2 linked regions of the Homo sapiens genome follow. The protein of the gene in region 1 purifies or fractionates together with the protein of each later gene. This does not show direct contact. Each region holds a gene or a part of one and is shown on either strand. Other genes may lie near its edges. The genes, in order: ARHGEF39 and KCTD12.

Region 1 (7,516 bases):
CAGCTCACTCATTTTTCAAATGCGATTCCCTATGGCTCTGTTTCTCTGTCTCTCTCGTCTCTGGTCTGAGTGGAGAATGTGGACTCTGACCCTGGATCATGCTGGGAGTCTGCCAAACCCTCAAACAGGTTTGAGTTATTGTTTCCTGAGTCTCCCCGGGTTGGGACAGAGTATACTCAGGACTGACTGACCAGGGCACCCCACACCTGGATCAGGACCTCTCTGTGGTTATTATAGGCCAAGTGTTTGCTCATGAGGGTTTGTGTTTTCAAACACTGAGGGGTCATGTTACTAAAACATGTCTCTGCCTATCCCAGCATGGCAGAGGAGGAAACTATTCACTGGTGGGGTAGAAGGGAAAATGCTCCCTCTCCCAAGCCATAGCTTGGGGGCAAAGACTGATCAAATTCCTTGTAGAACCTTGAGGCTGACTTGTAGTTCTGGCTACCTCCCCATCTATATTCATTTCCAAGGGCTGCTGTAACAAATTACCACCAAGTGGGTAGCTTAAAACAACAGAAATGGATTTTTTCACAGTTCTGGAGGCCAGAGTCTGAAATCAAGGTTTTGACAGGACTGGACTCTCTCTGAAGGCTCTGGGGAAGAATCCTTCCTTGCCTCTTCTAGCTTCTGGCGGCTCCAGGCATTCCTTGACTTGTAGCTGCATTACTCCAACTTCACATGGCCTTCTCTTGCCCCTGTGTCTCCACTGGGTGTCTCTCACTGAGACACTTGTCATTGGATTTAGGGCCTACCAACATAATCCAGAATGATCTCATCTCAAGATCCTTAACTAATTATGTCTGCAAAGACCCTTTTTCCCAACAAGGTCACATATACAGGTCTTGGGGATTAGGACATGGACATGTCTTTATATGGGGCCACCATTTAGTCCACCATCAGTGCAGGGGAACTGACGTGGACGCACAGGATGAGAAGGGATGAGTTCGTATTGAAGACTCTCATGCTTTTGCCCTTATCCTGCTACTTATCTTTGCAAGGCCGTGTCATCCACTCCCATGGCTCCTATAAATTGATGACACCCAAGTATTCCCAGGCTGGACTCTCTCCCCATGCCAGACCCATAACCATCTGCCTAATAGACAAGACCCAAGACATCTCCACTTGGATGTCCCACAAGTATTTCAAGTTTAACAGGCCCCAGGTTGAATTTGTCTTCCCCGCAAATCTCCTTTTCATCCTCCTTCAGTGAATAGCACCACCCTCCACCTAGAAGCCAGAAACCTGGTACCATCTCTACTTTCATCTTTTCCTTCACCCTAGCATTCAATAACCATGCCCTATGGATTCTACCTTCTAAATTTTTCATCTACATTTTTCATCTTGGCTCATACTTTCGTCACCTCTTACCTGGATGACTGCAACTGCCTCCTGATGGGTCTTGCTGAGTCCAGCCAACCAGAGTGATGTTTCTAAAATGGCACATCTGATGATCTCACTCCCTGTTTAAGGCCTTTCAATGGTTTCCCATTGCCCTTAGGATAAGGTTCACAGTACCTGACGTGGCCTTCAGAGGGCCGCCATTGCCCTGGTTTCCATGGTGGGCTTGTGACCTAGGGAGGTCCAATCAGTGAAGCTCTCTGTCTGAAGTATTTGATGGCTAAGGGAACCAACTCTGCGGACAACACATAAAGAAGCACACAGCCATTGTAACTGTGGGCAGCCATCTTGTACCCACAATGGAAGCCAGCCTTAAGATGAAGGTAAAACCATGGAAGGCACAGTGGAGTGGTGGAAAGAGGTCCTTGGTAACATGATTGAGCTGCTGGATTAGGCCAACACTAGGGCCCACCTGCTTCTGGACTTTTCAGTTGCATGAGCCAATAAATTATCTTAATGTTTAGCCACTTTGAATTTATTATTACTTATATCACAATTTTACTGATATAAATTCCTTCTAAGTTTGGCCTCTGTCTACCTCTCCAGTCTCCTTTGTCATCACTCTCTCCCTTGCAGTCTATGCTCTCATCTTACAGAACTTCTAGCAGTTCCTTAAATTCATCGTATGCTTGCATATGTGTGTGTCCAAGCCTTTGTCCATGCTGTTTGACTCTTTTTTCCACTTCCCTTGCTGCCAGCGCCCAGCTCTGCCTAGCCAGGTTTTATTCATCCTTCAGGTCATCAGTTCACATATCACTTCTTTGAGAAGAAGCCTTCCCTGACTCCTACACTAGGATCAGTCCCTTCACTGCATGCTTGTGTAGAAGACTACATGTCTCTTGTAATGTTTCCTCATTTTATGGTGACTCCTTACTGTATCTGCCATGCTGGAGTGTAAGCTCCCTGTGGGCAGGGGTCATATGTCTCTTGCCCACCATTTCATCTTCATGCCTAGCACAGGACCTGGCACATGATTGGCATTTAATTTTTTTTTTTTTTTGAGACAGAGTTCCGCTCTTATTGCCCAGGCTGGAGTGCGATGGCATGATCTCGGCTCACTGCAACCTCTGCCTCCTGGGTTCAAGCGATTCTCCTGCCTCAGCCTCCCAAGTAGCTGGGATTACAGGCACGTGCCACCATGCCCGGCTAATTTTGTATTTTTAGTAGAGACGGGGTTTCACCACATTGGTCAGGCTGGTCTCTGACAACACATAAAGAAGCACACAGCCATTGTAACTGTAACTCCCGACCTCAGGTGATCCGCCTGCCTCAGCCTCCCAAAGTGCTGGGATTACAGGCGTGAGCCACCATGCCCAGCCTAATTTTGTTGAATGACTGATGATTGTTGTTCAAAGCATCCCTAGTGCTTCTCCAGCATCCATCGGATTGAAAGCAAAATTTGAGGATAATTAAAGAATAAAGGGGTTATTGACTATCCTCTGAACCTCCTCCTGTTGGCCCCTCCTATCTTTGGCTGTGGGAGCGGAGTTTAGCAGCTGTTCCAGGTAGAGTATGGTGTGCCTGACTTGCTCTGTGGGAGACTCGGTCCCCAGGGAATTAGTTGTCACCAACTGTTTTCAGTGTGTCTTCTCGGCTTTGCCCTCTTCCTCTTCTAGAGTTGAATGATTCCCCAACCGATGCTCACAGGAGGCTCTATTCCCCACCCCTCTTCCACCCACCCAAAGCACTAACACACACTGGCAGCATTCACAAACACACCCATCACCAACTGCACCCCAGGTGTTGTGGTCTACTCTCATCACCTGGGCTCACAGTGACACCAATTACCATGGGATTATCTGTCCTCTTCCATGTTTGAGCTCTTAGTGTGTGGACTGTCCCACATTCACTTGAGACAGTGTAACCAGTCCTTTACCTATCTGGTATCACCACCAGTTTCCTTGGGACATAAGCCCAAGGTACAGTCTGATCCAAACTCTCCCCTTCCTTCATCCAAGCCCTTCAAGTTATTCCTCCCTGGTCTAAGCCCAGCATTATTCCTTTCTTAGAATTCTTAGAATGTCAGAGCTGGTGGGGAGGTGGTAGAGACCTCAGAACCCTGACAATCCTCTGGTTCTTGGCTTGCGGCCCAGATTCCTAGGAGTCCAAAACAGTAGGGAGGGAGCCTAAAGTTTCTGACATTTTGTTTTTTTTAATAACTTTTTTTTTCTAACTACAAAGTAATGCATGCTTAATGTAGAAAACTTGGGAAAGGCAGAAGTATAAGAGAATTTTTAAAATCACCCTGTTTGTCCCATTCATCCCTTTAGCTTCAGTGATCCAGTGCCTGGCACAGATACAGATTAGGTACTTAATACACATTTGTTAAACACATTATCTTCAATTCCATTACCCGGAGATAAAAACCACAGTTAACTTTTTATTTTTATTTTTTATTTATTTATTTTTTTTTTGGAGAGATGGAGTCTCGAACTCCTGGGCTCAGGTGATCCTCCTGCCTCTGCCTCCCAAAGTGCTGGAATTACAGGTGTGAGCTCCCGTGCCTGGCAACAGAGTTAACTTTTGATTGTTTTGCCTTCCAACATTTTATATATGTTTTATACAAAGGGGATTATATTATACACCTTTGTAGCCTGCTTTTTTTCCTCTCAGCAATATACTTACTATGTGCGTTTTCCCATATCGATAGCTTCTTTACAACACCATTTTTAATACTTTCATATCATTCCTTCAAATGGCTATACCTTTTCCTAGCCAATTCTGGGAACAACTGACCCCCTGGCATTTGGCATGGGCCCAGGACAGAATGTGTACTGTAATGACCGCCCCCCGTCCCAATTCTCCAGATAGGACATTAAGTTCCTGCCAGCATCTGCAGCCCGTCTCCTGACTCAAAGTTCAGGCTGCTGCTCCAACATAGTGCCACTCAGAGGAGGGCTCCACACCTGCCCCCAACCTTGCCCTGCCCTGCCCTGCCTTGGCCGGCGCCGCGCACCTAAAGCGCCGCTCTGGCGGTGGGGCTGGACAGAAGAGACCCTGCGCGGTCCGGCCGCTCGCCGCGCATGCTCCTTCCTGCGCGCTGCCCTCCCCGGCCCCGCCTCCGCGGCTCCCGCCCGCGAGCGGTTGGGATTTGAATCTGCCGCGGACTGCAGCCGGAAGTGTCGATCCCTCAGCCAGGGCATGGAGCTCTCCTGCCCCGGTTCGCGGTGCCCGGTGCAAGAGCAGCGTGCCCGCTGGGAGCGGAAACGCGCCTGCACCGCCCGGGAGCTGCTAGAGACCGAGCGGCGCTACCAAGAACAGCTGGGGCTGGTGGCCACGGTGGGGGACCTGGCACACGCTCCCATTATAGGACAGGGACCCCAGGGTGTGGGAGGGTCTCTGCGAGGTCGGTAACCCGGAGCATGTAGGGAGCCTGGGCAGACTTCTGCGGTTTCTGGGGGCGCTTGGCGTTAGCCTTCTCTTCCTCTAGGCTAAGAACCAATGTTCTCTCCTTCCGCAGTACTTTTTGGGGATCCTGAAAGCCAAGGGGACCCTGCGACCACCTGAGCGCCAGGCCCTGTTTGGCTCCTGGGAGCTCATCTACGGCGCCAGCCAGTGAGTGGAAGGGGCACAGGGAGAGGAAAGGAGGGAGAGTCCTGGCCTGTGGCCGTGCACAGAGCTTGGAGTCAGACTTAGGTTCTATTTGGAGTCCGCCAGTTAGCTCACCTGTGGCCTTGGCCCAGGGCCTTAGCATGCCCTTGTTCTCCATCTGTACAATGGGGTAATAGCACTACTATTAGTGCTATTCTCATGAAAACTAAATGAGGTGGTGCTTGAGTGGTTCTAGAGCTGCCCTTTTGCTGTCCTTGCCCACACAGGGAGCTGCTTCCCTACCTGGAAGGAGGATGCTGGGGCCAAGGGCTGGAGGGCTTCTGCCGCCACTTGGAGCTCTATAACCAATTTGCTGCCAACTCAGAGAGGTCCCAGACCACCCTGCAGGTAACCTGGAGATGACCTCAAATCTTGCCCCTTACCTTTCCCCTTCATCTGGAGACCCAAACTTCATACATTTCCTGCATTTATAGAGCCCTCTGGGTGCTCAGCTCTGTGGTAAGTTCCTTGTAGAGAAACGAGAGTTTCTCTCAGGAGCACAGCTTACTGAAGGCTGGGAATGTGGATACAGATGAATGCAATATAAGGAGTGGCTTCTCTCCCTGCTTCCAATCCTTTCTCCCTCACTCCAGGAGCAGCTAAAGAAAAATAAAGGTTTCCGGAGGTTTGTACGGCTTCAGGAAGGCCGCCCTGAGTTTGGGGGCCTTCAGCTCCAGGACCTGCTCCCTCTGCCTCTGCAACGGCTCCAGCAGTGAGTGAACTCTTGATTCCAGCCGCCTCTCTCTTTTAGTTTGTATGACTGCTGCCCTCAGCTTTGTGGGATGCCTTGGGGTCGATCCCAAACTCTTGCCTCGACCCTGAGCCAAATTGCTTCTAAAAACCTTTTGCAAGAGTAAATGTGAACCCATTGGAGTACCCAGGGTCTGCAGCCTGAGGCCCTCAGCTGGAACTGTGGAACTTTAAATTGAAGTGAGGGGGCCTGTACTAGGGCCTGAGGCACGGTTTCTGGAAAAGTTTCAGATGCGGGGCTGGCCTGGGTTAGAATTTCTGTCTCTGGGTTAAGCCTGAGTTAAGGGCTATAGTCAGGCTGTCTGTAGCATCCTCCTTGGGTTGATAAACTTTCATCTTCCAATCTGGCCTCCTGAAGTATGGCTAGTCTGCCAGTGACTCTTCAGTGTGGGATGGAAGAGGGCTGTGTGGTGTGAGCCTGGTTCTGAGTCCTACATGAAAGAAGGGGATACAGTAGCCAGAAGCAGATCTTTCCTGGCCTTCAATTGAAGTATGGGTAGAGGGTGATCTGCACATCAGGCAGGGGGAATTCTGCCTGGCTCTGCTTCCCCTCAGACTTCCCACTGTTGAATTCCAGGTATGAGAATCTCGTCGTAGCTTTGGCTGAAAACACAGGTCCCAACAGCCCTGACCATCAACAGCTCACACGTAGGTTCTTGCTCCTCGGCAACGCAGGCTGGAGGCTTCCTCTCCTGTATTCCTTTCTGATTCTGACCTCCAACAATGTCTGGTATGACCCTATCTTCCACTGACATGTATACAGTGTCCCTACTGCTCTGCCTTTTCTTCAAGAAGTCAGACCCTGACCCTGGTCCCTTCCAGAATAACCTCTTTCACAACCATGGCACCCAAAGTCAAAGTTGTATGGGGAGTAAGGTGGGAGATGTTATTCCAGGGGCTGCCCGACTGATAAGTGAGACTGCCCAGAGAGTCCATACTATTGGTCAGAAACAGAAGAATGACCAGCACCTTCGGCGTGTCCAGGCTCTGCTCAGTGGACGCCAGGCAAAGGGGCTGACCTCAGGTAGCTTGCCTACTTCCCCTTCAATCCTCAACTGCCCCATCTTTTATTTTTATCTAACTCCAAATGCCGACCAGCTGCTCTTTTCTTACTCACCCTTCTTCCTGTACTGACCCAGCACATAACCCCTATTTTCTCAGCCTCCCTTTCCTCTTATTCCCATGTATCTTGAAGCTGCACCAGAATAACAGCGCTCCCATCCCCCAGGGCGCTGGTTCCTACGCCAGGGCTGGCTGTTAGTGGTGCCTCCCCATGGGGAGCCTCGGCCCCGCATGTTCTTCCTCTTCACTGATGTGCTCCTCATGGCCAAGCCTCGGCCTCCACTGCACCTGCTGCGGAGTGGCACCTTTGCCTGCAAGGCCCTCTACCCCATGGCCCAGTGTCATCTCAGCAGGGTCTTTGGCCACTCAGGAGGCCCTTGTGGTGGGTTGCTCAGTGTAAGTAATAGGTGGGAACCCTAGACCCAAAATATGTCTCAGATGCTTATGGGCTGGTTTATCTCCCTGGTCTGGGTCCCTTTTCATAGGAACAGAGCCATCTACATTGAGAGAGGATAGCTGGGGCTCGGGCTTCATACCTAGTCATTGTCTCATCCCTGAATTAGCTCCATGGAAACAGCAAGGGCTTCAGCTTTAGCCTGGACCTTTCTGAGCCATGCGCTAAGAGGTGGTCTCTCTCTAGCTGTCCTTCCCTCATGAGAAGCTACTGCTTATGTCCACAGACCAGGAGGAGCTGTCACGCTGGTACCACAGT
Region 2 (3,496 bases), on another chromosome or scaffold:
GAATCATTTAGTTTTTTAATTCATTTACTAATGCTATAAAATTTCCTATATTACCCCAGTAATTTGCATCAGCTGGTTTATATACTAAAGCAACATGTTTTGATGAGTTTCTTACATCCTTATCGAGGAATTGGGTTAGGAAAAAATACATAATTGTAAAACTGAGTTTGCTGTATTATACTTTTTTTCTTGAGTATTAGTTGTATTACTAATCATATGTTGATTAACTGTCTACTTAAAGTCAAGGTACCTGTATTTTTAATCCACTAATTTTTTTTTAGTTGGGAAATAGATTTCAGGTCTTTTATTAGACTAACATTTTTTGAGAAGTAAAATTGACTTCATATACAAAGCCTGTAATTTTAGGCGAAATGGAAGCAGAAATCTAGGAAGTTGTGCTTGCTTGTATGTTGAGTTTGGTCTCAGACTAAGTAATGCATCAGAATTCATCTGTTTGAAGCCTGAAATAATTTAGGACTCTGATTCACTGACCAAAAGTCAGTGTTGCAGAGATTTCTCTACCCCGTATGGTATTTTGTTAGATTGTTCAACAGGAAGCACATGATTGAGAACATCTTGGGACAGACCAAAACCACTGACAGATGGCAAGGCTCGGCGATTCTGATTTCCCTTCTCAAATCTGCTCAACTCCAAGAGTCTTGAGAAACTGCTAAAATTTTGCCTCTGTCACTCAAGTCTTACAAATGTTATCTTGTAAACCTTTGAGGTGAACTATTCCACTGTCTTGTACATAGGCATCTTATTCACTGCACCCTGTCACACCCAGCACCCCCCGCCCCGCACATTATTTGAAAGACTGGGAATTTAATGGTTAGGGACAGTAAATCTACTTCTTTTTCCAGGGACGACTGTCCCCTCTAAAGTTAAAGTCAATACAAGAAAACTGTCTATTTTTAGCCTAAAGTAAAGGCTGTGAAGAAAATTCATTTTACATTGGGTAGACAGTAAAAAACAAGTAAAATAACTTGACATGAGCACCTTTAGATCCCTTCCCCTCCATGGGCTTTGGGCCACAGAATGAACCTTTGAGGCCTGTAAAGTGGATTGTAATTTCCTATAAGCTGTAATAGTGGAGGTATTGTGGGTTCATTTGAGTAAGCCCTCCAAAGATACCATTCAAATAACCTGGGAGAATGTCATAAATTATTCAGATAATTAACACTGCATGAATCTGATTCAGAGGCATGCATTTACATATGTTGCCCTAATTACCATTTGATGATCATAAATACAAGTGAATGACATTGGACTTTTAGTAACAAACTTAATTTTTAAAAAGGTGTAGACAATGGTGGTTAAAAAAAAAAAAAAAACAGGTACCAGGTTCTGTGTGTTTGCACCAAGTAATTGACATGTTTTTTAATACATGTGGACCATGAACAGTATTCATTCTACTTTTTCAAATGATATGCTGTAGAAAATATTCCTTGAAGATGTGAGATTTAAAAATTTTTCCCTTTCAATGTTGTTATGTATTCTACTGGTTTTTGATTGATAGCACAGTGATAAATCATAATACTAGACAAAATTGTCTTCTCTTTCAAACCAGAGCCATATATATGTCTGTATATATGGGACCTACTGCTTCTCTGAGGAAATGCATAATCTGTTAATATCAGACAAAATGAGCAATTGGCAGTGCTCATAATATATTCCAATTTTTATTGGAATTTTCGATGGAATGTTATTTCAATAAAGCCATGTAAGGTGAAACTTTGATAACTTTTTACTCTTCAAGTTAGGGTAAATTCTGATCCAATATTCAATTCATTTGTGTACTCCCACATGCAAAATGCTAAATTACAATGCAGACATTAAGAAAAAGTATTGACTGGAGGGGTTGAATTCCTTGAGAATTTATTTTATAGTCTAAATCACAAATACTTTACTCAATTTAGTTTTTAAAATAGTAAACTGAATATTTTTGTTGTAAGCCTATCAGAGTCAATCCTTCGTTTGGAATTGTTTTCCTGTTTTTCCTTACTATAAATCATTTAAAAACTGAATTCATTTTCTTAGATGGCATAAGTCTGTCTCTTGAGAAATAAGTAAAATACTCCTATTTTCAGTATCTGTAGCACCTGAAATAGGTCTTTGTATAGCCAGAAACAAGTTATGTTGAAGTTAGCTTTTCTTTGTCAACAGTTTTGGACAATAAAAATCTGAAAGTATTAACACTTGATTTTCTACTGGGGCCCTTCAAACTTGGTTGGAAGAAATTCAACCAGAATATCTACATTAGAGTATAATCATGTGTGGTAGGAAGATGGACTAGTTAATCAAGATTTGTTGTCACTTAAATTTTTTGTGATTTTTTTCCAAGCCAGTTTTTTTAAATTCTAAATGTGTTTTGAGGTATGGGTACATTAATTGTAATGTAAACTATTATACAACTGTTTTTGCGACTTTATAGGCAGGTAAATTTTGCTATTACTATTGAATACAAATGACAATTCATTTATGACCACTCAAACAGCGTTAGTAACCATTTAGTGACAAAGGATTAAAACATCCATCTGGATGTTAATTTTGAAGATGTAAATTATATGTTGTTTAAATTTTTCCAGGCATCTGAAAACCTTATCTGCTAGACAATGTAAGATTCACACAGAGTTATCTGGGATTCTGATTTTTTAAATAGTACATATCATTAAACCATTTTCTCTAAATGTAAGAAGAGCAGAAAAAATCTTATAAGATTATCAGATTTTTCTAATGACACAGAAATGTAAGAAAAAAATCCCTTTATATTGAAAAAAGATGCAGTCAAAGTCTTTTCAGACATGCCCAAACTTTGAGAATTTCTTCAACCATCTAATGCTATAAAGATTTTTGTTCTTCCTGTTCACAACCAGTTGTATAACAGAAATACTAGCTACTGTTTTCCTTCCTGTGTGTGAAGTAATGAATCATTGATTATGTGACTTGTTATGTATTCAATTAAACACTAAAGAATAAAACATTCACTCCTTTAATTATTCCTCTTGGCTCCTTGGCATGGATTGGCTTGAACACTGGTCTAATTTCATTTACGGGGTTCTCTAAATACTGGCAACACTTCCCAAATTATTGTGGGACTACTGCTGAGCATTATGCCATCAGAACTCTTCACCAAGGAACCGGCCAGCAGGACCAAGCACAAATAGCTTCTTTCCCCAGAGTTTATTGTCAAGAATGCCCAGGCGGTCTGGTACTTAATATGGAAGAAATGTTTTTCACAAACATTTTCTTTGACTTCTCTGCAGCATATGCCACTTGCTGTGTATAGGGACAGGGAAATAGAAGCTTCGAGATGTGCTTTACTTAAAAGTACAGTTCATGAGAAGGTTCTAAAAAATGTTGGGAAAGAGGAGCTGCATTTTTTGATGTGGGGGCACTTTACTGCCTCATCTCTAGTGGTTGATGTTCCTCCTCTCTAAAGAAGGCACAGTGCTGCTAAGATTGAGAAATCACAGAAACAAGTCGTCTGGGTTAT

What was found.
Region 2: the proteins of ARHGEF39 (region 1) and KCTD12 purify together in Homo sapiens (co-immunoprecipitation; 2 studies listed by BioGRID and IntAct, with this or other methods). This does not show direct contact.

What each region holds. Positions count from the first base shown.
Region 1 is NC_000009.12:35,662,196-35,669,711, reverse strand, and holds the start of ARHGEF39 (rho guanine nucleotide exchange factor 39), read left to right. Parts: upstream 1-4,516; 5' UTR 4,517-4,542; coding exon 4,543-4,680; intron 4,681-4,861; coding exon 4,862-4,956; intron 4,957-5,219; coding exon 5,220-5,340; intron 5,341-5,585; coding exon 5,586-5,704; intron 5,705-6,319; coding exon 6,320-6,390; intron 6,391-6,637; coding exon 6,638-6,766; intron 6,767-6,970; coding exon 6,971-7,200; intron 7,201-7,444; coding exon 7,445-7,516. UniProt on the Homo sapiens protein: Promotes cell proliferation.
Region 2 is NC_000013.11:76,879,675-76,883,170, reverse strand, and holds the end of KCTD12 (BTB/POZ domain-containing protein KCTD12), read left to right. Parts: 3' UTR 1-2,996; downstream 2,997-3,496. UniProt on the Homo sapiens protein: Auxiliary subunit of GABA-B receptors that determine the pharmacology and kinetics of the receptor response. Increases agonist potency and markedly alter the G-protein signaling of the receptors by accelerating onset and promoting desensitization.